7 linked regions of the Homo sapiens genome follow. The protein of the gene in region 7 interacts with the protein of the main gene of each other region in a pairwise test. Each region holds a gene or a part of one and is shown on either strand. Other genes may lie near its edges.

What was found.
Region 1: the proteins of ZNF837 (region 7) and CCDC125 interact in binary tests that used the Homo sapiens proteins (3 or more experiments, as listed by UniProt).
Region 2: the proteins of ZNF837 (region 7) and CHIC2 interact in binary tests that used the Homo sapiens proteins (3 or more experiments, as listed by UniProt).
Region 3: the proteins of ZNF837 (region 7) and KHDRBS2 interact in binary tests that used the Homo sapiens proteins (3 or more experiments, as listed by UniProt).
Region 4: the proteins of ZNF837 (region 7) and CLK2 interact in binary tests that used the Homo sapiens proteins (3 or more experiments, as listed by UniProt).
Region 5: the proteins of ZNF837 (region 7) and SPRED2 interact in binary tests that used the Homo sapiens proteins (3 or more experiments, as listed by UniProt).
Region 6: the proteins of ZNF837 (region 7) and PPP1R37 interact in binary tests that used the Homo sapiens proteins (3 or more experiments, as listed by UniProt).

What each region holds. Positions count from the first base shown.
Region 1 is NC_000005.10:69,315,802-69,319,301, forward strand, and holds part of CCDC125 (coiled-coil domain-containing protein 125), read right to left. Parts: intron 1-3,500. UniProt on the Homo sapiens protein: May be involved in the regulation of cell migration.
Region 2 is NC_000004.12:54,054,606-54,058,105, forward strand, and holds part of CHIC2 (cysteine-rich hydrophobic domain-containing protein 2), read right to left. Parts: intron 1-3,500.
Region 3 is NC_000006.12:61,975,226-61,978,725, forward strand, and holds part of KHDRBS2 (KH domain-containing, RNA-binding, signal transduction-associated protein 2), read right to left. Parts: intron 2,988-3,500; coding exon 2,841-2,987; intron 1-2,840. UniProt on the Homo sapiens protein: RNA-binding protein that plays a role in the regulation of alternative splicing and influences mRNA splice site selection and exon inclusion. Binds both poly(A) and poly(U) homopolymers. Phosphorylation by PTK6 inhibits its RNA-binding ability.
Region 4 is NC_000001.11:155,263,505-155,267,004, forward strand, and holds part of CLK2 (dual specificity protein kinase CLK2), read right to left. Parts: intron 3,392-3,500; coding exon 3,225-3,391; intron 2,451-3,224; coding exon 2,356-2,450; intron 1,271-2,355; coding exon 1,141-1,270; intron 1,047-1,140; coding exon 964-1,046; intron 797-963; coding exon 717-796; intron 537-716; coding exon 446-536; intron 205-445; coding exon of another isoform or gene 175-204; exon of another isoform or gene 152-174; intron 1-151. UniProt on the Homo sapiens protein: Dual specificity kinase acting on both serine/threonine and tyrosine-containing substrates. Phosphorylates serine- and arginine-rich (SR) proteins of the spliceosomal complex.
Region 5 is NC_000002.12:65,310,600-65,314,099, forward strand, and holds the end of SPRED2 (sprouty-related, EVH1 domain-containing protein 2), read right to left. Parts: coding exon 2,902-3,500; 3' UTR 252-2,901; downstream 1-251. UniProt on the Homo sapiens protein: Negatively regulates Ras signaling pathways and downstream activation of MAP kinases. Recruits and translocates NF1 to the cell membrane, thereby enabling NF1-dependent hydrolysis of active GTP-bound Ras to inactive GDP-bound Ras.
Region 6 is NC_000019.10:45,091,833-45,095,978, reverse strand, and holds the start of PPP1R37 (protein phosphatase 1 regulatory subunit 37), read right to left. Parts: upstream 2,801-4,146; 5' UTR 2,654-2,800; coding exon 2,452-2,653; intron 1-2,451. UniProt on the Homo sapiens protein: Inhibits phosphatase activity of protein phosphatase 1 (PP1) complexes.
Region 7 is NC_000019.10:58,378,231-58,382,479, forward strand, and holds the start of ZNF837 (zinc finger protein 837), read right to left. Parts: upstream 2,801-4,249; 5' UTR 2,711-2,800; intron 796-2,710; exon of another isoform or gene 555-795; intron 1-554. UniProt on the Homo sapiens protein: May be involved in transcriptional regulation.

The sequences.
Region 1 (3,500 bases), on a different chromosome or scaffold from region 7:
TAATTTCTTTCCAAAAAGAATGACTAGAAGAGTCCTGTAACTTCAATTATTTGCTCCTTAATGTGATCAACTGAGAATTTAAATTGAGCTTCCTAAGAGCTTCATTTTCCTTTCTGCCTCAACGGCAGTAAAAAAAAAAAAAAAAAAAAAAATTAAAGTGGCAAGTTATAAGCAAGAGTATAGGAAGTAAAAAAAAAATTTTATTGAGAAGAATGTTTGCTTTGAAAAAATATTTCTCAAAACAACTTTCTTTGCTATTCTGAAATTTCATTAACATGACAGTATCTAAGGCAAAACCTAAATCATGTTTGTACTGTGATTGATGATACAGGCTTCCAAGGAGGGCAGAGTGACTCTGGGTTGGCAGTGACAAGTTCTGTTCTATTAATACTTGTGGTAGGCAGAATATGATGTCCACATGCCAATTCCCAGAAGCTGTGAACACATGGCAAAAGGAACTTTGCAGATGTGATGAGATTAAGGATTTTGAGATGGGAGAGTACTCTGGATTATCCAAGTGAGTCCAGTGTACTCATAAGAGTCCTTATACATGAAAGAGGGAGACGAGAAGGTAAATGTTAGAGTGATATGATGTGAGAAAGACTCAGCCATCGTTGGCTTTGAAGATGGGGAGGGGGCCATGAGCCAAGGAATGCAGTAGCCTCTGGAGCTAGAAAAGGCAAAGGAGTAGAGTCTTCCCACTGAACCTCCAGAAGGAACGCACCCTGCCAACACCCTGGCTTTAGCCCACTGAAATTTATTTGGGACTTTTTTTCCCACAGAGAGAGGGTCTTGCTTTATTGCTCAGGCTGCAGTGCTCCTGCATCAGCTTCTCAAGTAGCTGGGACTACAGGTGCACACTACTACACCTGCTAATTTTTAAACTTTTTTTTGTGGAGTGTGGTCTTTCTATGTTGACCAGGCTGGTGTCGAACTCCTGGCCTCAAGTGATTCTCCCACCTCGGCCTCCCAAAATGCTGGGATTATAGGCATCAGCTACCAGACGTAGCCTGTTTGGGACTTCTGACCTACAGAACTGTAAAATAATAAATTTGTGTTGTTTTAAGCCATTAAATGTGTGGTATTTTGGAAATTATCTATTAGTGATAGGGCCAACTTTAATAAAAAGAAAAGTTCATAACCCAACAAAATGGGAACTCATACTATTACTATTTAAATCTTATTTATACCCCAGTGTTTCTTCATGCTGTTTGTTTGTTTGTTTGAGATGGAGTCTTGCTCTGTTGCCCAGGCTAGAGTGCAGTGGTGTGATCTTGGCTCACTGCAACCTCCGCCTCCCAGGTTCAAGTGATTCTCCTGCCTCAGCCTCCCAAGTAGCTGGGATTACAGGCACCTGCCACCATGCCCAGCTAATTTTTTTGTATTTTTAGTAGAGACGGGGTTTCACCATCTTGGCCAGGCTGGTCTCAAACTCCTGACCTCATGATCCACCCACCCCAGTCTCCCAAAGTGCTGGGATTACAGGCATGAGCCACCGCACCTGGCATCTTCATGTTTTTATAAAGGCATCTTAGCATCATGCTCAGTTTCCAACATTTTGCTTTCAAAACAGTATCCATTCTCTATACACAATAAGGAATTGGAAGAAAAATATAAAAATAATCCCATTCTGATTTCAAGAGGGATGTTGAAGGATGGGGATGAACCCTGAGCTACCACGAGCTACCACGTATTTTTGTAAATCTGAAACCATGTTTCTTAAATCACTCTCATGTTGTTCTAATTTGTGTTTGTTCAACTTTGAGGGGAAGTTTCAGAAGAGGAAGTTTTACAACATAGATTACAAAATATTTAGCCAGATAACAGCTGGTGCCATGGTACAGGCATGGGCTTATCCACAGACTCCCGATCATTTTGGAGTTGTAACATTTTATCAAAATACGATGCTAAATTTTATTATTTCCATAAGGTAAGGTATAATTTCTTTTTGGTTATGATAAATTAAGACTAACTGTTTTGACAATTTTTGAGAGTTTCATGACCTCCTAAAATAACCAGAAGCATCTCTGTTCTTCCTGGAACACTCCTTTCCCAAAGATCCACTGCCTTACTCTCCCCTTCATTCTGGTGCTCAGGCCAAGGTGGGAGGACTGCTTGAGGTCAGGAGTTTGAGACCAGCCTGGGTAACATAGTGAGACCTTGTCTCTAGAATTTTTTTTTTTTTTTTTTTTTTTTTTTGAGACTGAGTCTTGCTCTGTCGCCAGGCTGGAGCGCAGTGGTGCGATCTCGGCTCACTGCAACTTCCGCCTCCCAGGTTCACGTGATTCTCCTGCCTCAGCCTCCTGAGTAGCTGGGATTACAGGTGCACGCCACCATGCCTGGCTAATTTTTGTATTTTTAGTACAGATGGGGTTTCACCATGTTGGTCAGGCTGGTCTGAAACTCCTGACCTCATGATCCACCCGCCTCAGCCTCCCAAAGTGCTGGGATTACAGGCGTGAGCCACAGCACCTGGCCGAAAAAATTTCTTTTAAATTAGCCGGATATGGTGGAACATGCCTGTAGTCTCAGCTACTCAGGAGACTGAGGCAAGAGGATTGCTTAAGCCCAGGACTTTGAGGTTGCAGTGAGCTGTGATCATGCTACTGCACTCCACCTTAGTGACACAGTGAGACTGTCTCTTTTTAAAAAAGAAAAAGGCCAGGCACGGTGGCTCATGCCTGTAATCCCAGCATTTTGGGAGGCTGAGGTGGGCGGATCACTTGAGGTCAGGAGTTTGAAACCAACCTGGCCAACGTGGTGAAACCCCATCTCTACTAAAAATACAAAAAAAAAAAAAAATTAGCCAGGCATGGGGGCGGGCACCTGTAATCCCAGCTACTCAGGAGGCTGAGGCAGTAGAATACCTTGAACCCAGGAGGCGGAGGTTGCAGTGAGCCGAGATTGTGACACTGCACTCTAGCCTGGGCGACAAGAGTGAGACTCCACCTCATAATAAATAAATAAAAATAAAAAATAAAAAGAAAAGTAAAAAGAAAAAAAATGTCACCTCCTTACAGAAGCCTTCCTAACCCTGGCCTGAAATACTAGCACCCCATTCCCCATAATCACTCACTATCCCTTCACTTACCACTGCCCAATGTTACACATCTGTTGATTTGCAGGGTTTTGGTTTTTTTTCTTTTTTTTTTTTTGAGACAAAGTCTTGCTCTGTTGCCCAGGCTGGAGTGCAGTGGTACAATTTTGGCTCCACCTCCCGGGTTCAAGCAATTCTTGTGCCTCGGCCTCCCGAGTAGCTGGGACTACAAGCACGTGCCACCACACCCAGCTAATTTTTATACTTTTAGTAGAGATGGGGTTTTGCCATGTTGGCCAGGCTGGTCTCAAGCTCCTGACCTCAAGTGATCCATCCGCCTCAGCCTCCCAAAGTGCTGGGATTACAGGCATGAGCCACTGTACCCGGCCTGCAGGTTTATTTTCTATCTCCTCTATTAGAATGTGAAATCCATGACATTAGGGCCTTTGTCTATTTTGTTTAC
Region 2 (3,500 bases), on a different chromosome or scaffold from region 7:
TCTGTTACTCCGCATGCCTAACTAGGAACTCCCTATACTTTGGCTAATTAGATCACAAGTGGGCATCTGCTTTAAGAACAGCTAATCCCTGGGCTGGGTAGCAGCACATGGAATGGCAAGGCCAAACAGTCCTGCCTAACTTAGATAACATTAACTAACTCAATCAGCTCTCTCTTGAGGTATCTGAACATAAGACAAATAGATGGTAACATGCAGAGCTGACAGAGAGAGGGCTTAAATTGAAGTCAAGATGTAGTAAAGCCATCGATAATTAGAAATCAAAATAAACTGAAGCCAATAGTAAGCAGAAACTGAGATCACCAGACAAGTAATGATGGGCCAGATCAGGGAGGGTCTGGTAGAACATTAAAAGGACTCTGAAGGAGATGGGGAACCTTTGAGGGGCCTGATACAGAGAAAAGACTTGAACTGACTTATGTTTTAAAAGGATCACTATAGCAGATGTACCAAAATGGTTGTATAAGAGGAGAGGCAAAGGTGGAAAGGTGGAGACAGGGGGAAGAAAAAAATATATATATATTTTTTGTAATTTAGATGGATTCTTGCTATGTTGCCCAGTGTAGTCTCAAACTCCTGGGCTCAAGTGATCTTTCTGCCTCAGCCTCCCGTGTAGCTGGGATTATAGGTACATGCCACCATAACTGACTTAAGAAATACATTAAGCGTAAGGCAGAAGGGAGACTGGCAATTCACTCCAGTCGTGTAGGTGGCAAAATAGGGCCAAATTTTGAAGACAGAGCCAAGATGTCAAGACAGAATGGATGTAGTGAAAGAGAAAGAGGAAAATCAAGAATACATCAAAAAGTTTTTGATCTAAACAAACAGGGTCCTCGATCTGCCATCAACTGAGAATGGAAGGCTGCCGTTGAAGCTGATTTGGGGTGTAGATTATGAATTCCATTTTGGATATTCTGGATTCTGAGACATTCCACCTGTACAAATCTATAGATACAGAGAATTTTTATGTTCCTACAGATATGACAAGACCTATGAGCATATGAACTAGAAATTTCAAACTGAACATATTGGTTATGCAGATGGCACATGAAGAGAGTGCTTATTTCCTAATGTTGAACTTTGAGCTCAATGAACTCAAATTTTTAGCTAGTTTTGGAGATAAAGTCATAACTATGGAAAAAAATTAACAGGCTTTGATGCATATAAATCATGCTTTAAGTTTATCTGGTTGATTCAACATACGTCTGAATATCAATGTAGCTCAAGGAGGATGGGATCTAATTGAAAGTATACTCTATTTATACAAAAGATACAGAGACCCTGGAGTTGGAGACGTATATTTGGGTTTCAGAATAATTCTAAAAATCTTAACTCTGTAACCACATTCTGAACAATATTTGAGTTCATCTGGTTTTATGAAAGTTTAATCTCATTCAGGAAACTAGTGAAATCAAAGACTTAATTCTCCAAAGCATGTGTTAAATTTACTCTATCATAAACCTCACCATTATACATAGTCTTATAATAATCTAGCATTAGCATTTTATCAATTTTTAATTATTAAGGTTATAATTTCCATTATTAACAGATTAAATATGTTGTTAAGCAGTGAAAGCTATATAAGTGTATACTGATGAAAATGCACAGTATAACTAACTTCTGGCGATATAGGGATGCAGCTGATCTAACTTAACAACTTTTAAATTTTCTGAACTACAGAAAAAAGATTTTTGTATATCTGATTTATACATATTTTAGAATATTCTTCATACTTCTATAAATCTTAAGAGCAAAATAATGATGCTAAATTATGTTCATTTAAGCAAAATATATGGTTGAATTGATTTACAATATAGACTAACAAAAATACTCATTTCAAGTAACATTTATAATTGAGCAGTTTAGAAAAGACCAAGAAAGGAGACTGGGTACATAGGAACTCCACCACTGAACTAACCAAGGCCCACATTATGACTACAATGCAAGATCAAAGAGAATAAAACAAGAAGTTCTTGCAGGAAGCTCACTATATATAGTACATTCACTTTTTTTATCAATCAAAATAACAAAGTTAGGTTACCTTCAAGTCCAACCAACTCTATCCTAAGTAGATAGTGGGAGAGAAAAAAAGCTTAAGAACAAAAAAATTATTCTTCAGGGACACTGTGAGAACATTTCAGCTCCTACGGATGCAACTGAGTTTTAAATGTAAGATATAAAAAACACAATTTTTTTCCTCAAATCTAATGAATCATGTACTGAGGGCTGTCACATACTACACACCTTACAGCTAAAGGATATCACATTTACGAGGGTTCCCACTTCAAAATCTATGATCTTGTGGGAAACACTCTCTACTTCTGGCATGTGCTATTCTCTTGGCATACTAGCTGCCCCAGCAGCAGAACAGAAAGTGCAGGTATGCCATCAAAATCACTCCCAGTGAACAGTAAGGGTAGCCAGTTATTTAACCTCAGCCTACACAAAGCTAAAATTAAAAAATAAACAGACCAAAACAAACATAAGAACTGAGGAATTAGACAGCAAAAGTGGCCACTGCTATGTATTTCCATACCTCATAGGAAAAGCTGTGAAATTTGATGGTTTACACACAGAACTGTAATAACTCCTTTAATCTAGAGATCAACACCCTAGCTGGGGCCACTATCATGTCTTATGGAAGCTGCTTCTATAACCTTCTAAATTTCATTCTAATTCCTTTACAATCCTTTCTGGCCCCTACTGAACCCTCCAACCTCATTTCAAGACATTATCCCCTTTGTTCACTATATTCTAGCCATAATATAGAGGTATCCTTTCAGTTCCTCAGGCAAGTCAAGCTTGTTTTGGCTTGGAGTCTTGGCACCTGCTGTTCTCCAGATCCAGGGGCTCCTGACAGGACTCTCATCCTTCCTAAATGTTAGCTTCCTCAGAGAGGTTCTTCCTAATCACATTATTTTCAATCACAGGATCTCATCCATTTCCTTCAGTGCAACTTTATCAGATAAAATTTGTCTATTAGCTGTAAACTCCATGAGGGCAGAAACTATGTGTGTTTCATTTTGGGTTTCATTATATACCCAGAGCTTTGTGCAATACCTGGCAGAAAAATGGGCATTTAACAAATACTCATTAAATTACTTATCAGGAAACCTCAACAAGACAGCTGATAATCAAAGATTAAGCAAAAAATACTCTGAGAAAACAAAATAAATATTGTAAAACCCAAGCATCAAAACCCAAGCATCTACATTCAACAATCAGGATGAACTTCTCTTACTTTATATGCAGTTCTAATAAGGCTGGTTGGTTGTTTTGCTTCCAAGAACAGCTGACCAATTACAAAGACAGAAGAAAGCAAACCAAAAAGAACAGCCCACATATGAAATTTAAATGAAAGTGCCATTTAGAGAAGGTTCTCAAACTCCAACATACCTCAGGGCCACTAAGGCATCACTGTGTATCAATCTGATAGCCGCTTTTGATTAAATGATTCCTCTAGTCAATTAGATAATTCTGAG
Region 3 (3,500 bases), on a different chromosome or scaffold from region 7:
TAAAAAGTCCTACCATGGAAAATTAATCCCTTTCGCAGAAGAACAAGATGTCAGTGGAATTCCAGAGTCTTGCCCTATATAAGCCTTCTTTGTTGTTCTAGCATGTCTCTTACTGCCTAGAATTCTTCATCTACAATGTTTGCAAATGTTAATGTATAGAAACTTTAGCATTTCTGTGGGCTTTAATATAAAATATCAAAAGAACCTTAGATCACCAAGTCATTTCATAGAATAAAAAAAATTGGCAGTTCATTTTTGCCCCTTGCGGTTCTCCCATTCTTTGCTTTCTGCTGATGCAAGCAAGGCAAATGGGATAAATTTATGACTTTCATTGATGGGAAAATTTACTAATAAAACATTGAGAGACATATCAGAATAGCCCTCATGACATTCATATTCTAGCACAGAAATCAAAGATAAGCAAGATGCACACACACACACACACACACACACACAGAGAGATATAAAACATCTGAAGGTGATAGGAGCTATGCGGAAAATAAGTGAAAAGGACTAAGGTATAATGGAACAATGAATTATAATGTTAAATAGAGTGGTTAGTGATACTACGTTCAAAATATAGTAAGACTGCATGATAGAAGGTAAAGGGGGCAGCTACTTTAGATTGTGTGGTTGGGGAAGAGTTTTCTACAAAGCTAACCTTTAAGCTGACAGCTGGATGCTAAGGAAACAGCCATGTCAACACTTTGGAGAATAATCTTCAAAGGTGCTTAATGAGCAGTGAGCCTGGACTGTTGAATGAACAAAAACCAGCATGTCTGAAGTGCAATGAATAAGAAGTTAGACATACAAGATGAAATCATAGAGGTAGGCATGGCCAGGTCACACCAGCCATGGTAATATTTTCATTCTTCATCTGAGTCTGTATATATGGTGCATCTTGACTGTGGGGTATTAGCCCCCAAATTTTACCTGGATAGCTATTTTATCCCCTGCACCACTCCTCATGCCTATAGGCAGCCATTCCATCATTCCATCAGTCAAACTATCAAGTAAATATTTATTGTGCTAGGCATGATGCTAAGATGGGGATACAGTGTTGGCCAAAGGAGATACTGCCAGCCAGCCCTATCCTCACACAGTATATATTTCAGTGGAGAGTATATAAATGAAATACTTACAAGAATCATTCTGTCTAGGAAGTGAGCAAGCGAGATGTATTACTGACATTTCTAATAGAGGAGTGTTAACTTAGCCTACAGAGTAGGATATACATATATGTATATATACATATGTGTGTAGATATACATATCAATTAATAACTATGCAGAAAATCATCCCTTGATATTTCTATTATATTTTCTACAATATATTTAAACCATCCATTAATATTCTGCTTTATAATTTTCTAAGTCCTTTCATATGCATTACCCCATTTAATATTCATCATAACTGTGATAGAGGCTGGTCAATGATAATTATCTTCATTTTAAAGATGAATAAACTGAAGCTTTGAGAATTTAAATGACTTGAAGTCATGTAGTATGTTAGTAATGTACAGTCCTAGTCTCATTTTTATACTATGTATGCTATCAGAGGTCTGGTCTGAACTAAATACAGTAAAATTCCTTACTCAATACAGCACTAGGCATTTAGTTTGGAGGCAAAAGGAAAATAAAACGTAGCATCCTCATTCTTAATAAATATGAGATCTAGTTAGGGAGATGTTCAGATGAGCATCAGATAATAAATTGTGCAGAAATTCAGTGTGCATATGAAGTTAAGAATAATCAGAACGGTCTGCAATTATTCTATAACCTTGCCTTGACAGAAATTAATTTTTAAACTGGACATATAAATAGATTATGTGACTAGATCTTGATGCTTTTAAATTCTTGAAATTCTCTGGTTTTATTTTTCTTTTCCCATTCTTAAAATCACTGCCAATCAATGAACCTTACCCACCATTTCCTCTTAGTTTATTGCTTATTTAGAAATCTGCAGTTTCTTCATTGTGCAGATCTATCTTAGCTGTGTGCTTTCTCTGTTGAAGACTCTGCCAGACGCTCCAGAAAACTGTACTCAGCATTCTCTTCTAATTGTCTTATTCCCAGCTCCAAGCCTGATGCCAAGATTTCTATTTGAATGACTTCTTCCTAGAATGCTAAATTGTCAATCTTTAGGAAAGCTTCATTCATTTAACCTTCCTCTATTTCTTAGAAAATCAGTAGAGAATTCTACCAGTATGCAACCCTGAATTTGTTGCCCTACTAAATAAACATTCTCTGTTGCCCTCACATGGTAGAGTGAGTTTATTTTTCCAATTTTTGTTTAAAGTCAACAGATGTCTGGCTTTACTAATATTGATGATTTTATATTATGTTTTATTATGAGGCAACACCTGGCATGCCATCACATGAAAATACATTGGATATGTTTAAATGATATCATTGTCTTATTTCAAATTATTACATATCTGATCTCTTTCCCTTTCCACTACACCAGGAAATAATTTCCCTATTAATTGTAAATTGCAAACGATAAACTTTCAAGTGATGGAGATGCAATAAAAAAGTATACAACTTCAATTATATATTTCTGTTTATAAACATGTCTTTTTCTTCATGACTATGAACCGATGCATGGCATGACACCAGCATGACAAACATTGCTATGGAACCATCACTATATGGCAACACGCCAGGTCCTGTGTTAAGTGGTTTTGGTATCCTATTTTATTTTTTAGCTTTGTATCGACCTGTGGATAGATCATTGGTTTGCAATATGAGTTTCCTTTTAAAAAGTCAGTGAAGATCAAAGGTGCATTTTAAAATAGAAGCTGATAAGAAACATCTTTGTAAAAAATGAAAGACACTTACAGGAACCAGGAATTTTTTAATCTCTTCCAATGCATGACTCATACGTGAATAAGCTTCCCCAGGTGGAGCAAACACTTCAATTAATACATGAAGCTCATCACTCAAGTGGGCATATTTGGCTTCCCCACTCTTCCTTAGTTCTTCTTCCTGTGAAAAAGGTTATTTTTAGAAATACAAATCCACTCATTTTACATTGATTTAACATTTACTGAGAATATGACAAAGGTGTATAATTTAAGCAAATTTTCCATAATTTGCTTCCATAATTTTCTCAAAGAAACCCTTTGAGAAATAAAAATCTGCTACAAGCCATTTAAAGATTTTAAAATCATTTTTGAGTGTTTGAATGATTTTAAAAACCGGCATAATTATCATCTACAACAGATTTTAATCAGCTAAATGAAAATGCTAAACCCCTGAAAATAAGTCACAGAATTGCCATTAACACTGTAGTCTACATGACTACATTCTGGAAGGGAAGAATTGTTTTGTGCTTGATGTTCAGCATTTTGCAGATGGTAAGTGAAAGATTATCACTGTGTTCTTTAAGAAAACTAAAACTTTCTAGCCACTTTTTGAGAAGTTAGGAAGGTTACTTGATTGTGATAAAAAGTAGGGTAACTATACAAGTCAAGGCTTATTTCCAAGTCTATGTTCTCA
Region 4 (3,500 bases), on a different chromosome or scaffold from region 7:
CCAATTTGAAGGCTACCTAACCACGACCACACCAGGACCAACGTTTCTGATATTATAGCTCAACCTACCTTCCCACTAGCACAATTACTCCATAATCTTTGAAAGTTCTTTCTACTTGTATATCCTTGTCAACTTCATGAATCTTCTTTAGTTCCTCATTAAAATGTAAGCTCTTCAAAGGTAGTTTATTCTTTTCTGTCTGACCTAAAGAATCCAGGACATTGCTTTGATCTCTGGTTGTCTCAAGGTTAGGCTGTCTAACCTCCTTCCCTCCACAAAACCACTCCCTCTTATGTTTCCTCTGTTGACCAAAGATGTCTTCTTTCAGCTTTCCTCCCCTCCTTTCCTAACCCTCTGCTTGTGAAGAGCATTCCAGGGGGCAAACCACCCTAAGAAGGAAGTGACTTCTGGACGGTGGGCACTATTTATCCCGAGCCCAGCTCACCCGCAGCGGTTTGCAGTTCTCACGAACATAGCGCCCAGCTGATGTGTTCTCATCCCAATCCAGGCGACCCCGGTAAAAATATTTCTGCTTTCTAGAGGGGAAGGGGAGGTTGAGGAATCAGAAGGTCACCCTTGTTACAATTCCCTTATTTCCCCATCTGAAAGTAACTGGGGGGAGAGGAGGTATCAAAGAAAAAAGAAAATGATGTGAAATAGACCAATTCTGTGGAGAGAAAAGGAAAAGAGTTAACTAGTGCCCCCTCAAGGTTCACCTTGTCTTTCGGATCATCCGGGAAGGGATAGGACCCAAGATCCTTTCCATCATGGCTAGATGCTCTCTGTTGTCATGGGTCTGGGAAACAAAAACAGAACTGAGCATGGGACTGAAAAGGGCATGCTAAGGATCAGCTGCCAGGAAGGCAGGCAATGTGGAGAACTGAGTAGGCAGGTCCTCAGCAGAAAACAAAGGAACCAGGTAGAAGAATGCCAGGCAGTCAAGTAAGACATCCCATCACTTACCTGGAAGAGGGTGAATCCCACATAGTATTCAAAGATGATGCAGCCTATACTCCACACATCACAAGGCTGTGACCAGCCCAACTCTGGGTGAGAATGGGAGGGAAAAGGTGTTATGAGGCTTAGGTGGCCCCACCCTCACATCATCTCACACACTTGGACAGCCTTGCCCTCCCTTACCAAGGATGACTTCTGGTGCTCGGTAATGGCGAGTGGAGACAATGGTGCTATGGTGCTCATGGTCAAAGGTGGCACTGCCAAAGTCTACCACCCGCACAGCTGTGCTCTTCACACTGCGCTCATCTCGCTTCTAGGAGCAGAGGAGAAAGAGGATGAACCTCTGCACCCAGACTGAGATTCCACCAGTATTCTCTACATTGCTTCTGAGCCTTAAAAAAGGTACTGTGATCTCCTGCCTGGCCTTACAAGCCCTGGGAAATTCCTGTTTTACAGCTTCCACCACATCCAGCATAATACTTTTAGAAGTAGGGGAGCAAAAGGATTAAGAAATGATTATAGAACAGCGTGCACATCTGTAAGCATCTGAAGACTACACTCAAGTGCCAGATATATAGTTATTCTGAAAACATGTAACATGTAGCAAATGGGTTTTTCTGAAAAAATGTAACATGTAGCAAATGGGTTTTTCTGAAAAAATGTAACATGTAGCAAAGGAGTTTCTCTAAAAATATGTAACATGTAGCAAAGGGGTCAAAGGAGGGAGAGCTTCTTTAGGTCTGAGATCTCCATTATCTCCAGTTAGTCAAAGGAGCCGAGCTTTCCTACCTCACAGAAATACACATCTCAAAAAAGAAGTCCGGGCCAGGCACTGTGGCTCACACCCGTAATCCCAGCATTCTGGGAGCCCGAGACAGGCAGATCACCTGAGGTTAGGGGTTCGAGACCAGCCTGGCCAACATGGCAAAACCCCATCTCTACTAAAAACACAAAAACTAGCCAGGCGTGGTGGCGGGTGCCTGTAATCCCAGCTACTCCAGAGGCTGAGGCAGGAGAATCACTTAAACCTGGGAGGTAGAGGTTGCAGTGAGCCGAGATTATGCCACTGCACATCAGTCTGGGCAACAGAGTGAGACTCTGTCTCAAATAAATAAATAAATAAATAAATAAATAAATAAATAAAGTCCAAACCAAGAACCTTAAAAACTTTCACTCTACTGGAAAGTTATCTGAAGTCCCCTGTACAAGTTATCTCCCAATTTAAGTCTTCTTAAGAGATTTCTCCCTTTCAACCTATTTAGTTTTACCCAGTTGGAGCCAGACAGGGAGAAAATGTGGGAGGACGAAATAAAAGGGAGAAAACAAAGGGCTCGGCAGAAGGCAAAGTGGTGCAGCTGCCTGCCCCCAGTAACCAAGGGCAGACCCTATCCATCTTACCTTCTCTAGGTTGTAGGTGAGCTCATAGTCTGAATTCACAAACAGAATATTTTCAGGCTTGAGGTCTGTATGTGTCAGCTTGTTATCATGGAGGACTGTAGGGGAGAAGGCCAGGTCAGGCTTGGTGCAGGTGGCCAGAGCTAACTGGTATCAGCTGACCCCAGGCCTGGTTACCTAGGGCAAAGCCAGTGAGGAGACAGGTCCAGAATCACTAGGGCTGCTTTCTGCTCTACGTCTAAATGGAATGCCTGGTCTAAGAAGCTCTGCTCTTTCTAATGTAAGATACATATGTAGCTCAACTGATGTAAAAAAAAAAAAGTTTGCTTTGAGTTGTAGTGTGTACACACTTTGACATGTGTCTAGCTGGCATTATGTTAACTCAATTCTGTGAAACTGTATTATTTTGATGACTCCAGAGGAATGATATATTTCTTTGAATTCCCCACCTTGCCCCTTAGCTGAACTACATACTCTGTGTTCCCATCTCCTTTGCTGTGAATGAACATCTCATCCCAGACAAATGTAAGCCTTTACCCTAAGGAGTGTATTTTTGTCTCTTTATGTTTGCTGTCTGACTGATGCTTTCCCAAGAAAGGGAGAAAGGAAAAGGGGAGGGTAATTAAGTGCTTTGATTCCAAAGGCTTTCTCTTCTAGCTGCTGCTAGGCTAGGTGTAGAGTAAGAGCAATCAGTGACGATAAAGACATCAGTCAAGGAGTTAAGTCAGAAGACGTTTCAAGATGACAGTAAATCAAAGAACTGCAGATAACAGACAGCTGACTGTTTAGGGGCTTCACCAGTGCACAACCGACAGAGAGATCCAATGAAGGGAGGGACTGCCCCAGAGTCCACTTCGGCCCACCCCACTCACACTTGACAGCCTGGCACAGCTGGAAGGCCATGTGGCGCACTTGGTGGATGGGGTAGGGCAGGTAGTTGTTGTCTTTGAGGAAATCGAAGGTGCTAAGGCCCAGAAGCTCAAAGGAGATACACATGTGGCCATGGTAGTCAAACCAGTCAAACATCTGGACACAGAGGCTGAGAAGAGAGATGGGGGAAGGGGGGTTGTCTGATGAGCTCCCATCTGCCCATCAGCCATCCAACAAGGAGGTACTTCATAGCTGTTGATTCCACATACTTGTGTAAA
Region 5 (3,500 bases), on a different chromosome or scaffold from region 7:
GAAGAGGGGGTGTTCCTGGGCGGTGGCCTGCAGCCTTCCTTTCACTGAGGCATCCGAGCCCAAGGAGCTGCAGTCTCCCCTTGGGAATATGACATAACCATAGGAGGAAAGGGCCTTGAAAAAACAGACCGGTGTCCACATGTCCTTCGGCACAGGAAGCCCTGTCCCATCCTGTATGCGGGAACTCCAAGATCTGCCAACGCTCTAGCATCACCTCGTCTCCTGCCAGACAAATACCCCAAAGCCAGCGATCTGATAGGATGTGTTTATATTTACACGGTACATTTTAAAGCAATGGCTACATTGGTCATACATATTAGAAACCATAAAAAAAAGTTAAGAACTAAAATGTACATCATACACTTGTATATATATTTTTTACACAGAGGTAAAAAGGCTTATTATAAAAAAATCAATACAACAGGGTTTTTAGTATACAGGTAAAGAATGAATTATGCTTCAGGCACTTTAATTTGTTAATGTGAGCAAATAGCTTGGGGGGTCGGGGAGGCTTCTGGACAGAAAATCTTTTGGTTAATGTTTTGTTACCACAGATACAAAAATAAAATCTGAATAATTTCTCTCAAATGATTGACGTCAGTATGGCAAAGCTGACTGGGAAAATACTACACACTGTTCAGCTGCAGTGTGGCAATTAGAGACGTATTTACATAAATGTCCCCATGGCTGTCTTTGTGCCCTTAACCGATGCCTTCACAAACCAAAAAGTATACGTGGAGTAAGATCTGCTAGCGTAACTCTTAAAAGGGTGGAAAAGGACAAGGGGTGAAAGAAGAGAGAAACAGGTAACAACTAAATAGAGGTGACAAACAAAAAACAGCTGGGATATGTGCGTTCTTATTGAAATAAATAGGGGCACTTGAACTGAGGTCTAAGGAAACGAACATTAGTGTTGTGCTTTGTAGAGAAGAGACCCTAGAGAAAGACCCCAAGGAAGTGCCTCCGGGTCGGGGGAAGGTGGTCTCTCGACAGCACTGGAGGCTGGCTGAAGGTTTTCTAGATGTTCTCCAGGCATGGATGAGGTTCTCTTTTCTTCCATCAATCCAGATGGACAGCTCTCTGCTCCTTTTCCAAACTGGAAAGCCTAAACCAGTTACTCCAATGAATGAAGACGTCTACTAACTGACTCATAAGCACACTGGGTATTTACACCGGTAATCTACTAAAGAAAATCGATGAGCTTGTGGACGAGCTGGAAACAGCCCCATGAAGGTGAGCACAGCTAGCACTTTCCCAATATGATTGGCAGACTGGAAAAAAGTCCCTTTCCTTGAAGACTGGTGTCCTGTGTGCAATAAAGAAGGAGTGGGGAAAGGGAGTGGGGAGCAGGCCATGTCTTCTGCTGGCCGCTACCACAGAAAGATCGTGGCGGGAAGAACAGCCGGCGTCCGCAAGCCTGTCCCCGGTGGTCTCCACGAGGTTCTGATTGTACTATGCTAGGTATAGGTAACCACTCTTCACTTTTCTTCTTTCTTCAATAAGAAGATTTGGCTAATCCTTGCAACGTATTAGAAAAATACTCTTTTCCAGCTAATTAGAAGCCTCCTCCGTGGCAAGGCGACAGGCAGAACCAGTTGGCTGACCTAACCACCTGTGCACCCAAAGTGGCGAGTCTGGGTTTGGAGTTGCAGGAGAAAGACACTTAGGCATTGGAAGGGTTTTTACATATGGCCTTGTTTTTTCCCCAAGTATAAATGAGGAATTTGGTGATGTGAAATTGAGTCCAAAATGAAACGAAAACATAAACCCATGAAGAAAATGCAACCCACCACTCTTCAAATTTATGACATTTAAAAATCCCCTCTCCCCATTAATATAAAATAGCCAGGGGTTGGGGGGAAGAAGCTCCCTATGGTTTTATTCACCATAACCTTAGTGTTTCTCAACTGGAACTTGTTCGTGGGAACACTGATTTGTGTTTGAGGAAACTATTTGGTTTGCAAAACAACAAGCAAAATTTCTTACTTCACTAGTATCCTATTCTAATATTGCTAAATTTTTAGAAGTGGTGGCAACACAATTTAAAAAATGTTCTACTTTAGGGGTAATGGGGAGGCTCATAGAAACCTGAAATCCCCATTCTAGCCCTGGTCCAAGAGGATGCAATGCAGTTGAAGGAATTTTCCTGATTCTCACAAGTTAATCTGAAGTTAAGGCTCAATTCTCAGTCTATTACGGGTGAATGTTTTGCATCAGTGAATCATTTCAACAGATTTTGGGGGGGCAGAAAATGATGATGGGCTAAAGATAGAAACTGCAGCTTACATGGGAAATTTGGCTTTAGAAAAGTTAAAGCGATATTGTTTTGTGGTACAAGTTTGTTAACTAGCTCACCTCCTATACATAATAACTGACTGCAGGCTGAGATACTTCTGTCGGGTTTCATCATTCTCACATCCCATTTCCGCTGAACCAGATGCTTGCTAGCGACAGGCAAGGTGAACCAAGAGAAAGAGAGTCTTCGACGCTCTTGGAAAAATCAACTACAAAACCCACCGAAAATCAGCAGTTCCAATTGCAGACTCCTTTGAACTGGAAGAGGCGGGGGAGGAGGAAACAGGAAATCAACACATGGATGAGACAGTTAGCTTGGTTACAGATTGTTAATAGTACAGGAGTCTGTGGCGAAGGTTCCTTCCTCAGAACACTGTGCGAGCGTGTGTGTATGGATGTGGCTGCTGCAGTGTGGGCGGCAGGGGGAGTGGAGAGTCTACCCGGCAGCGTCCCTGGCTGGAATGGTGCCTCGAGGTACCAGGGAGCTGGGAGGCCGCTTGCCCTCCTCGCTCCTTGGAGTGGAAGGGAGCGGGGGAGAAGATGAGAGTATGTAAGAGACGAGTTCCCCTGTGGCTGCGGATGGAGGGAGAAGGGAGGGAAACTGAGTCACGCGGCCGCTTTGTGCTTCCCGCCACAGCACCTGCACATCACTCCGCAGTGGTAGCAGGCCCGAAGGGGCAGGTAACAGCACATACAGGGGGCCAGGAAAGACAAGGCAATAAGAGCCATCCACCGGAGGCAAAACTTCTCGTCGCTAGTATCGCACGAGCAAGGGTCTGTATAGTCTCCCTCGGGGTCCGACATACAGTGATAGAGCATGCTGTCCGCGCACCACATGCAGCTCACCCGGCGGATGCAAGTTCTCACGGAGTCGGGCGCGTCCTGGCAGTGGCCCCGGCGGTTCTCCTCGTGGTTGAACATGTCCCTGCAGTACACGCACCGCGAGCGCTCTCCGTCCTCCTTCCGCCGCCGCGACTTGCCCCGGGAGGGCTGCGTCTTGATCACGCTGCCCCCGCGGCCTTTGGGGTCCTCGCCTAGGCCAAAGTCTGAGGAGTCCACGTAGGGGTAGTTGTAGTCATGCTTGGGGACCTCGCCCTTGGCGAAGCGCACGTAGGAGGAGTCCGCGTCCTCCGAGGGGTCCGGGTACTTGCCCCTGACGGGTGCGTGCCGGTAATCCTCGTACCCCGTCATCCAGATCTTCTCCC
Region 6 (4,146 bases), about 13 Mb from region 7:
CGAGGTCTCAAAGGATCTGACCTGGAGCCTCTGCTCTTGAAACACCCTGCTCTGCCTCTCCAGGTCTTTCCCCTTCCTGCTCTGGACTGGATATCACGCAATAGCCAGGGGGCATTCTGACTGTGCCCGGGTCCCAAACTAACCACCTATCCCTGGGGCCTAGAGCCCAAGGACTTGGCTGGCTCCTAGTGCCAAAACTCTTTTTTTTTTTTTTTTTTTTAAGACCGGGTCTCTGTCACCCAAGCTGGAGTTCAGTGGCGCAATCACAGTTCACTGCACTATCGACCTCCTGGGCTCAAATGATCCTCCCACTTCAGCCTCCTGAGTTGCTGGGACTACAGGCGTGCACCACCACACCTGGCTAATTTTCGTATATTTTGCAGAGACGCGGTTTCACCTTGTTGCCCAAGCTGGTCTTGAACTCCTGGGCTCAGGTGATCTGCCCACCTTGGCCTGACAAAGTGCTGGGGTTGCAGGCATGAACCATGGCGTCCGGCCCAAAAGTCTTAATTTAACCACTGCCTCTTTAAGAATAACTAGCCAGCCGGGCACGGTGGCTCATGCCGGTAATCCCAGCACTTTGGAAGGCTTAAGTGGGCAGATCACCTGAGGTCGGGAGTTCGAGACCAGCCTGGCCAACATGGTGAAACCCCCAACTCTACTAAAAATACAAACATTTTTAGCCAGGTGTGATGACAGGTGCCTGTAATCCCAGATACTGAGGAGGCTGAGGCAGGAGAATTGGCCTGGGCGACAGAGGGAGACTCCGTCTAAAAAATTATAATAAGTAGCCAAACTGTCATTCATGATGGACTCCCTGTGTGTTCAGTTTCCAGTTACCATGTTTCCCACCCTCACATCAAAGCCACCAATTCCTCCATTGTCCACAGACTGGCAATAGTTTCTCCCCTTGCCCAGGGCCGGCAGATCAGCTTCTACAGAACCACGGCCACCACAGCCAGTCTGATCCCTCACTTCATGGGCTCCACCCCAGGAGAACTGACAGACTTCTCCAGCACAAAATGGACTCAACACTGCCCTGCATGTCCCAAGCGACTTTCCACTTTCCCAGCCCTATGGCTCCAACACACTCCTTTCAGCTCCAACACTGACCTGACCCTCTCCAGTGCGCTGGCCCTCTCTCCCAACACTTCAAGTAGCCAACTTTTTCATCTCTCTCACCTGCTACTGGCCAGCAACTCCAATTTCTGACTTGATAACATCCCCCAATTCTTTTTTTTTTTTTCTTTGAGCCGGAGTTTTGCTCTTGTCACCCAGGCTGGAGTACAATGTCGTGATCTTAGCTCACTGCAACCTCCACCTCCCGGGTTCAAACGATTCTCCCTGCCTCAGCCTCTTGAGTAGATGGGATTACAGGTGTGCACCACTATGCCCGGCCAATTTCTGTATTTTTAGTAGAGACGGGGTTTCCCCATGTTGGCCAGGCTGGTTTTAAACTCCTGACCTCAGGTGATCCACCCACCTTGGCCTCCCAAAGTGCTGGGATTACACGCCTGAGCCAATGCACCCGGCCATCCCCCAATTCTTTCTCAGGAAGGAACAAGAGGACCCTTCCGTAGCCATGTCCCAAACATCCTCTGCTCCTGAATGACTGACAGCCTTCCTTCTGCTTCTCTTTTTTTTGGAGGAGGAGGCGGCGGTAGGCGTTGGCTTTTCTTCTTAATACCACATTGCAGCAGGCGGCGGTGGCTCACACCTGTAATCCCAACACTCTGGGAGGCCAAGGAGGGAGGACAGCTTGAACCCAGAAGTCCGAGACCAGCCTGGGCAATGTAGTGAGACCTTGTCTCAATAAAAAAGAAAACATAAAAACCACACTGCCTCTTTCTCCCTCACCCAACCACAAATTGACCACCACCTCTGCTCCTCTTCTGGGACCTTATCTTGACTCCTTTTTACCAAGTCCTCTATAGCCACAGTCCAAGTTTATAGTCTCCCTCTTTCCAGCCAAGAAAGTGGCCAACACGACCACTCCTTGCCCCAAGGCTTGCAGACCAGCAACTTAACCTCTTTTTACCCCCATAGACCCATCAAACTCTTTCAACTGCCCTTTCAGGCCCAGTGTTGACCCGCTCCTCCTCTCAACTGCTCCTTCTCTCCTTCTCTGGTGGAACTACGAACGCAAAGGCTGCCACACTCTACATCTGACAAAACACCAAACTTTCTTTAATTGCTCATCGTTTTAAACCCTAAAACGATCACCATCTTTGTCTCGGGTGGGTGGGGTGCGGCAGAAACCAGATACTTTTCACCTTCCCAACTCCATAGCCACCCCCTTTCTAACAGACTACGGTTCTAAACTGACGACTGTCCCCTTATTCACCATTAGGTGCAATCTATTGAACGCCACCTCGAGCCGGGCCCTGCACCGATCCCTCCCGACTCCCGGGTCCCTCTCGAGCCCGCCCCCGCTTCACCCGCGGTAGCTACCATGTCTCCAGGGGTCTTTGGGCTCCACTGCTCCAGACACGATATCCTCGTCGGACGGGAATGTGACGCGCTTGGCTGCAGCCTTGAGGCGCCCATCGGCGGGGGGCGACGCGGGGCTGGGAGACCCGGCCTCAGCTGGGGCCTCTTCAATGTCGCCGTCCGCGCCCGGCACGGGCGGCGCCTCCTGCGGCGCGATCTCCATAGCCGCCGCCGCCTCCTCACGGGGGCCCCGGGGACATGCCCCGGGCCCCGGATTTGTCTCTCCGGGTCCGCCCGCCGTCCCGGGGCATGGGCTCCGCCGCCGCTTCAGGCGCCGCCTCCGTCCGCTCTCCTAGTGGTCGTAGTCGTCGCCGCCGGGAGCCCAAGCGCGCCTCCGCCGAGCCCCGCGCGCGCCTGCCCGTTCGCAGTCACACTTTCGCTCGAGGCTGGCGAGCCCGCCGCTTACTATAAGAAGCAGAAAATCGATTTCAGCGACTTGCACGTAGAGTTGTCCCGCGGGTGACATGAAGAGAGAAACAAAGGGCAGGAAGGGCCACGGAAAAAAGAAACGTGAGCAGCGAATCTGCAGAGCCGGAACTGCAGACTATGAGGGGCGGGGCGAAGTAGACGCCGTCTCCAAGAGCAGCGCGCAAGCGCGAAGCTGAGCCCACGCCTTCCTGCCGGAGTCCAAATAACGAATATTCAGCTCCCGCACATTCGTCAAGAGCCCAGGGAATGGAGTGCATAGAACTGAAAACACCTGGCGGGGCGCGGCGGCACACGCCTATAATCCCAGCACTTTGGAAGGCTGAGGCGGGAAGATCGCTTGAGTCCAGGAGTTCGAGACCAGCCTGGGCAACATAGCAAGGCCCCGTCTTTACAAAAAATTTAAAAATTAGCAGGGTCTGGTTACAGGAGCCTGTAGTTCCAGCTACTTGGGAGGTGGGAAGATCGCTTGAGCCCGGTAGGTTGAGGCTGCACTGAGCTATGATCGCGCCCCTGCACTCCGACCTGGTAGACAGAGCCAGACCCTGTCTCAACGAAAGGAAAGAAATGGGCCGGGCGCGGTGGCTCACGCCTGTAATCCCAGCACTTTGGAAGGCCGACACGGGCGGATCACGAGGTTAGGAGATCGAGACCATCCTGGCTAACACGGTGAAACCCCGTCTCTACTAAAAATACAAAAAATTAGCCGGGCGTGGTGGCGGGCGCCTGTAGTCCCAGCTACTCGGGAGCCTGAGGCACGAGAATGGTGTGAACCCGGGAGGCGGAGCTTTTAGTGAGCCGAGATCGTGCCACTGCACTCCAGCCTGGGCGACAGAGCAAGACTCCGTTCCCCCCCCCCCAAAAAAAACAAAGGAAATAAATGAAAACATTGAGGCTAGACTAACTGATGAAGAGTGGTAACGGCATGAAGAAGTCGAAAAGAAAGGCGGATAGGAGCTGCATTCAATATATGAGTGCAGTTGATGGATGCTGACAGGGATACTCTGGAGACGAAGTCTCGGCCCCTTCGCTAGTCTCTAGTCCTCCATTTGCTCGCTGCAGTTACATCAACAGCTCTCTGTATCGGGGTAGAGTTGCATAAAATACAACTTAAATTACAATGCTAAAATAAATATGAGCCCATGAGCGGTATCATAGGCCTGATTTTAAAAAACAAAACCTAGGAGAAGGTAGAAATTCCAAAGGCGAGAGACGAATCTGCCAACCTAA
Region 7 (4,249 bases):
GAGCATGCCACTATGGATGCTGAGCAGCAGGAGGTCAGGGGCCCCGCTTTCACAATGTGCCATCCCAGAAGCCCCACAGCCAGGATCTGGACCTCTCTGACACAACTCCAGGTCACAGAGACCCAGATGTCAGGGATGGAGGGACTTGGGCACCTGCCTTGCTATTAGCTCCAAGGCTGCTGGCTTCATGTCACAGTCTGTACAACAGCTGGTGGCATGAGCAGGGCTAGGACCAGCACTCAGCATGACTTCCTAGAACTCTAGGGACTTAGGGGCTGAGGACTTCCCAGGGTGAAAGACCATACCTGGGACAGCCTGGCCAAACAGGGACAATTGATCACCATGGAATCAGTGGACAGGCCCAAGAATGGATGGGCACATGAGGTCACCCAGGATCAGGCAGGTTCCACTGAAGGAGGCTGCAAAAGATATATCCAATGTCCTAACCCCGGAACTCTCAGAATGTGACCTTATTAGGTCTTTGCAGACATAATTAAGGATCTTGTGATGAGATCACCCTGAATAACCTGGGTGTGCCCTAATTCCAATGACAGGTGTCCTTATGAAGGAGGCAAAGGGAGTTCTGACACGGAGAAGAGTGGTCCATGTGAAGATGGAGGCTGATATTGGAGTGATGCAGCCACACTCCAAGGAACACCCGGAGCCGCCAGAAGCCGGAAGAGGCAAGGAAAGACCCCCACCCAGAGCCGTCAGAGAGCACAGTACTGCTGACACCTTGATTTCAGACTTCTGGCTTCCAGGACTGTGAGAGTAAATTTCTGTTGTTTTAAACTGCCCAGTTTGTGGTAGTGTGTTATAGCAGCCACAGAAACTAATAGAGACTGGTCTAGCACCCTCGACAGAATGTGTGTGTTGTAAGGGGCTCTCCTGATCCCTAGTGATGGGGAGTCAGAGGACTGCTTAGTGTCTGAACAGAGGGTTGGGGAAGCTGGGTTGTCCTGAAGAACCAGCAGTCCCCACTTGGCAGAAAGGGACCCTGAACTTGTGGGAGGTGGGGGCTGAGGGGCACCTGCTAGCCATGTGCTAACAGCATCTTCGGATTGGTCCCCAGATGCCCTGCTCCCAGGGGTGGCTCCTCTGCTGCAACAAGAACCTGCCTCCCAGCACCAGACACAGCAGGTGGGAGCTGTGGACCATGGCCGAGTCTCTTCGTCTCCTTGATCTGCTCCCAGGATGCACTGTCCAACTATCCCACCTGTAGGTGGGTGGCATTCCAGCCATGGACCCATGATCTGAGGCTGAGCACAGCAAACACAATCGAGGCTCTGGGTCCCAGGTCCCAGGAGCCCGTCCTTGATGGTGCATTACAGCTCTCCCAGGCTGTTCTTACAGTGACCTCCCACCTGCCCCAGGTGAGCATGCTTGCACCTGGGTGCTCGCCCAGCCTTTCTAGTTGTCCTTAGGGCTTCTGGTGTTGGGAACAGGATGCAGAGTTACCAATTTAGGGGGACTGAGAGGTTAACGTGGCCAAGGCTGAGCCCTGCAGAACTGCAGAGCAACAGCACACACAGGAAAGCTAGTGAGGTTCAACATCCTCATGGAGGTTGCACACGGCACAATGAGGTCTTATTTGCCCAAGAGAATGTGCAGGGAAGTCGCCAGGCACGGTGGTGCATGCCTGTAATCCCAGCTACTCGGGAGGCTGAGGCTGGAGAATCGCTTGAACCCGGGAGGCGGAGGTTGCAGTGAGCCGAGATCGCGCCACTGCACTCCAGCCTGGGCAACAAGAGCGAAACTCCGTCTCAAAACAACAACAACAACAACAACAACAAAAACAGAATGTGCAGGGAAGTCAACGTTGGTGGCTCTGAGGTGTGGAGGACACAGGCTAGTGCCCAGCTCAGCGTGGCTCCACCTCTCTGAGCCACAGACCAACCTCACCCACACTGACAGTCCCAGGGGACACAGACTCTAGCCCCTATGTCCAATTCTACACTGTGCACGCAATGGGAAGAACAGTGCATCATGCACTGTACAGCAGAAGAAATGTCCTCTGAGTGCAGGCACAGCTCCCTTCTGTGTCTGTCCTCCCGACAGTGCCTCCACCCTCAAGGATTAGCAAGCTTCAACCCTCGCAGGACATCCACTGTGTCAGGGCCAAACGGTGCTGCATCCTGCTCTAATAGTGAGTGAAGGAGGGGACCGCAGACAAGAAGAAATGAACAAGAGACCGTTTAAGAGAGAAAAAGACGTGAAGAACATCAGACAGGGAGCAGCGCGAGGGCGCCAGGGAGGGAGGCAGCGGATTCTTCGGGCCTCTGTGAAGAGGGGGCATGAAACCGGTCTGCAGACAAGGAAAGAGCAAAGTGCAAAGGCCAGGATGCGGGGGCAGAGACGGTAGGGAGGCCGGCGTCGGCCTCGGCTAGCAGGTGGGCTTGACTCCGAGAGCCGCAGGCCGCCAGGATGGGTCCCGGGCCTGGAGCCTCCCCTCGCGGGCTTCAATGACACCCAGCACGGAAACGCGGGGGCCAGAACTACAGAAGCCCGTCCCGCCCGGAACTCAAGGTCGCGAGTGCTGTGTGGCCGGTCCGGACCCGGAGCGCGAGGACCGGAAGTGCGCGGCGTCACGCCTCTGCCCCGGACCCCGCGCGCGGAGGTGGAGAGGGGACTGGGGTGGTGGCCGCGCTATGCGCCGGGAGGTCCCCGCCTCGCAGGCCGAGGTTGCGGGTCCGCGCAGAATGCCACTTACTCTCTGGAGGCGGCCCGCACGGGTCCCTGGTCCCCGCCCCGCATGCAGCGCGGAGCCGTCCTCCCGCCACCTCCGGGCCGCCGCGGCACTGAGGGACCCGGGCCACAGCAAGCGCAGGCGGGAACCCGCGCGGGGACTGCTGGGAAACGTAGTCCCGTCATGTCCCGCTTTGACGCTGCGGAGAAAGCGGTGTAGGGAGAGGCTTGGGCTTCGGTTATCATAGAAACAGAGGCCGGCTACACCTAAAAGGCGGGGCGTGGACCTAAGTCGTCGCCAAAGAAACGGCGTTCTGGACGGGGACGTAGGGTCCCGCCCATTCCTTCTCGTGAAAGCGGGTGACTGGTCATGATTATGATTGATAGCCTCCTCTCCCAATCTGATTTCTAAGAGGTCCCAACCCGGAACCGACTTGCGGTTCGCAGGCTCCCCTCGGGTGGGAGAGTTGGGCTGGGAAGCACCTGGGGAGCTCTGAAGTGTCTTGGTGAGCGCGTTGCGAGTCAGACCGATAACATCAGAATCTGGGACTGGGCCCGAGCATATGCGCGTCAAAACTCCTCAGTTAAGTCTATTTTTTTGTATTTTTTTTGGTTTGCTTTTTTGAGACGGGGTCTCGCTCTGTCGCCCAGGCTAATGCAGTGACACCATCACGGTTCACTGCAGCCTCGACCTCCTGAGCTCAAGCGATCCTCCTACTTCAGCCTCCAGAGTAGCTGTTAACAGGGGCGCGCGCCACCACGCCCGGCTAATTTTCTTTCTTCTCTCCCTCCCCCTCCTTCTCCCCCTCCCTTCCTCCTCCCACTATGTCGCCCAGGCTGGTCTCGAACTCCTGTACTGAAGCGACCCTCCCACCTCACCCTCCCGAATAGCTGGGACTATAGGTGGGAGCCACCATGCCTGGATAGTTTTTTTATTTTTATTTATTTATTTATTTTAGAGATAGGGTCTCCATATGTTGCCCAGACTGGTCTGGAACTCCTGGGCTCAAGCGATCCTCGTGTCTCAGCCTTCCAGAGTGCTGGGAGTACAGGCTTGAGCCACTGCGCCAGGCCCCTAGTCCGGCTCCTAGTTGATTCTAACACGTGCGGCCCCATTGGGGAACCACAGCCTCCCCAGCCCCTTTGGGTGTTGCTGACTCTACGGGCCCTCCCAGGTAGGATGAACTGGTCACGCCTCCTACCCATTTGTAACCCCCAGCTCTTGCCCCCATCTATTGTGTGGCTCCTGCCCTCAATAGGGACATCTAATTTTGTTGGCCAGTCCAGCACATATATTGCATGTAACGACCCAGTTTGCCCCACCTTTCTGCCTCCACTGCATCTGCTTCAGGGATGCTGGGACTGTTCCACTCCCTTTCTCCATCCTTTGGGTGTCTGCACATCGAAAGCCTTGTCAGGAGGTCTATCTCCCTGCCCAAGTACAAAACTCAGGGCTTACCAAGCTAATTGAGGGCGAGCAGGAGGCTGAAGGGCACTTGGAGGGCTGCCCGCCTTGTGGGTCCCTTGGTGGCTGAAGAGAGTTGCACAGGAAGGCCTTGACAAT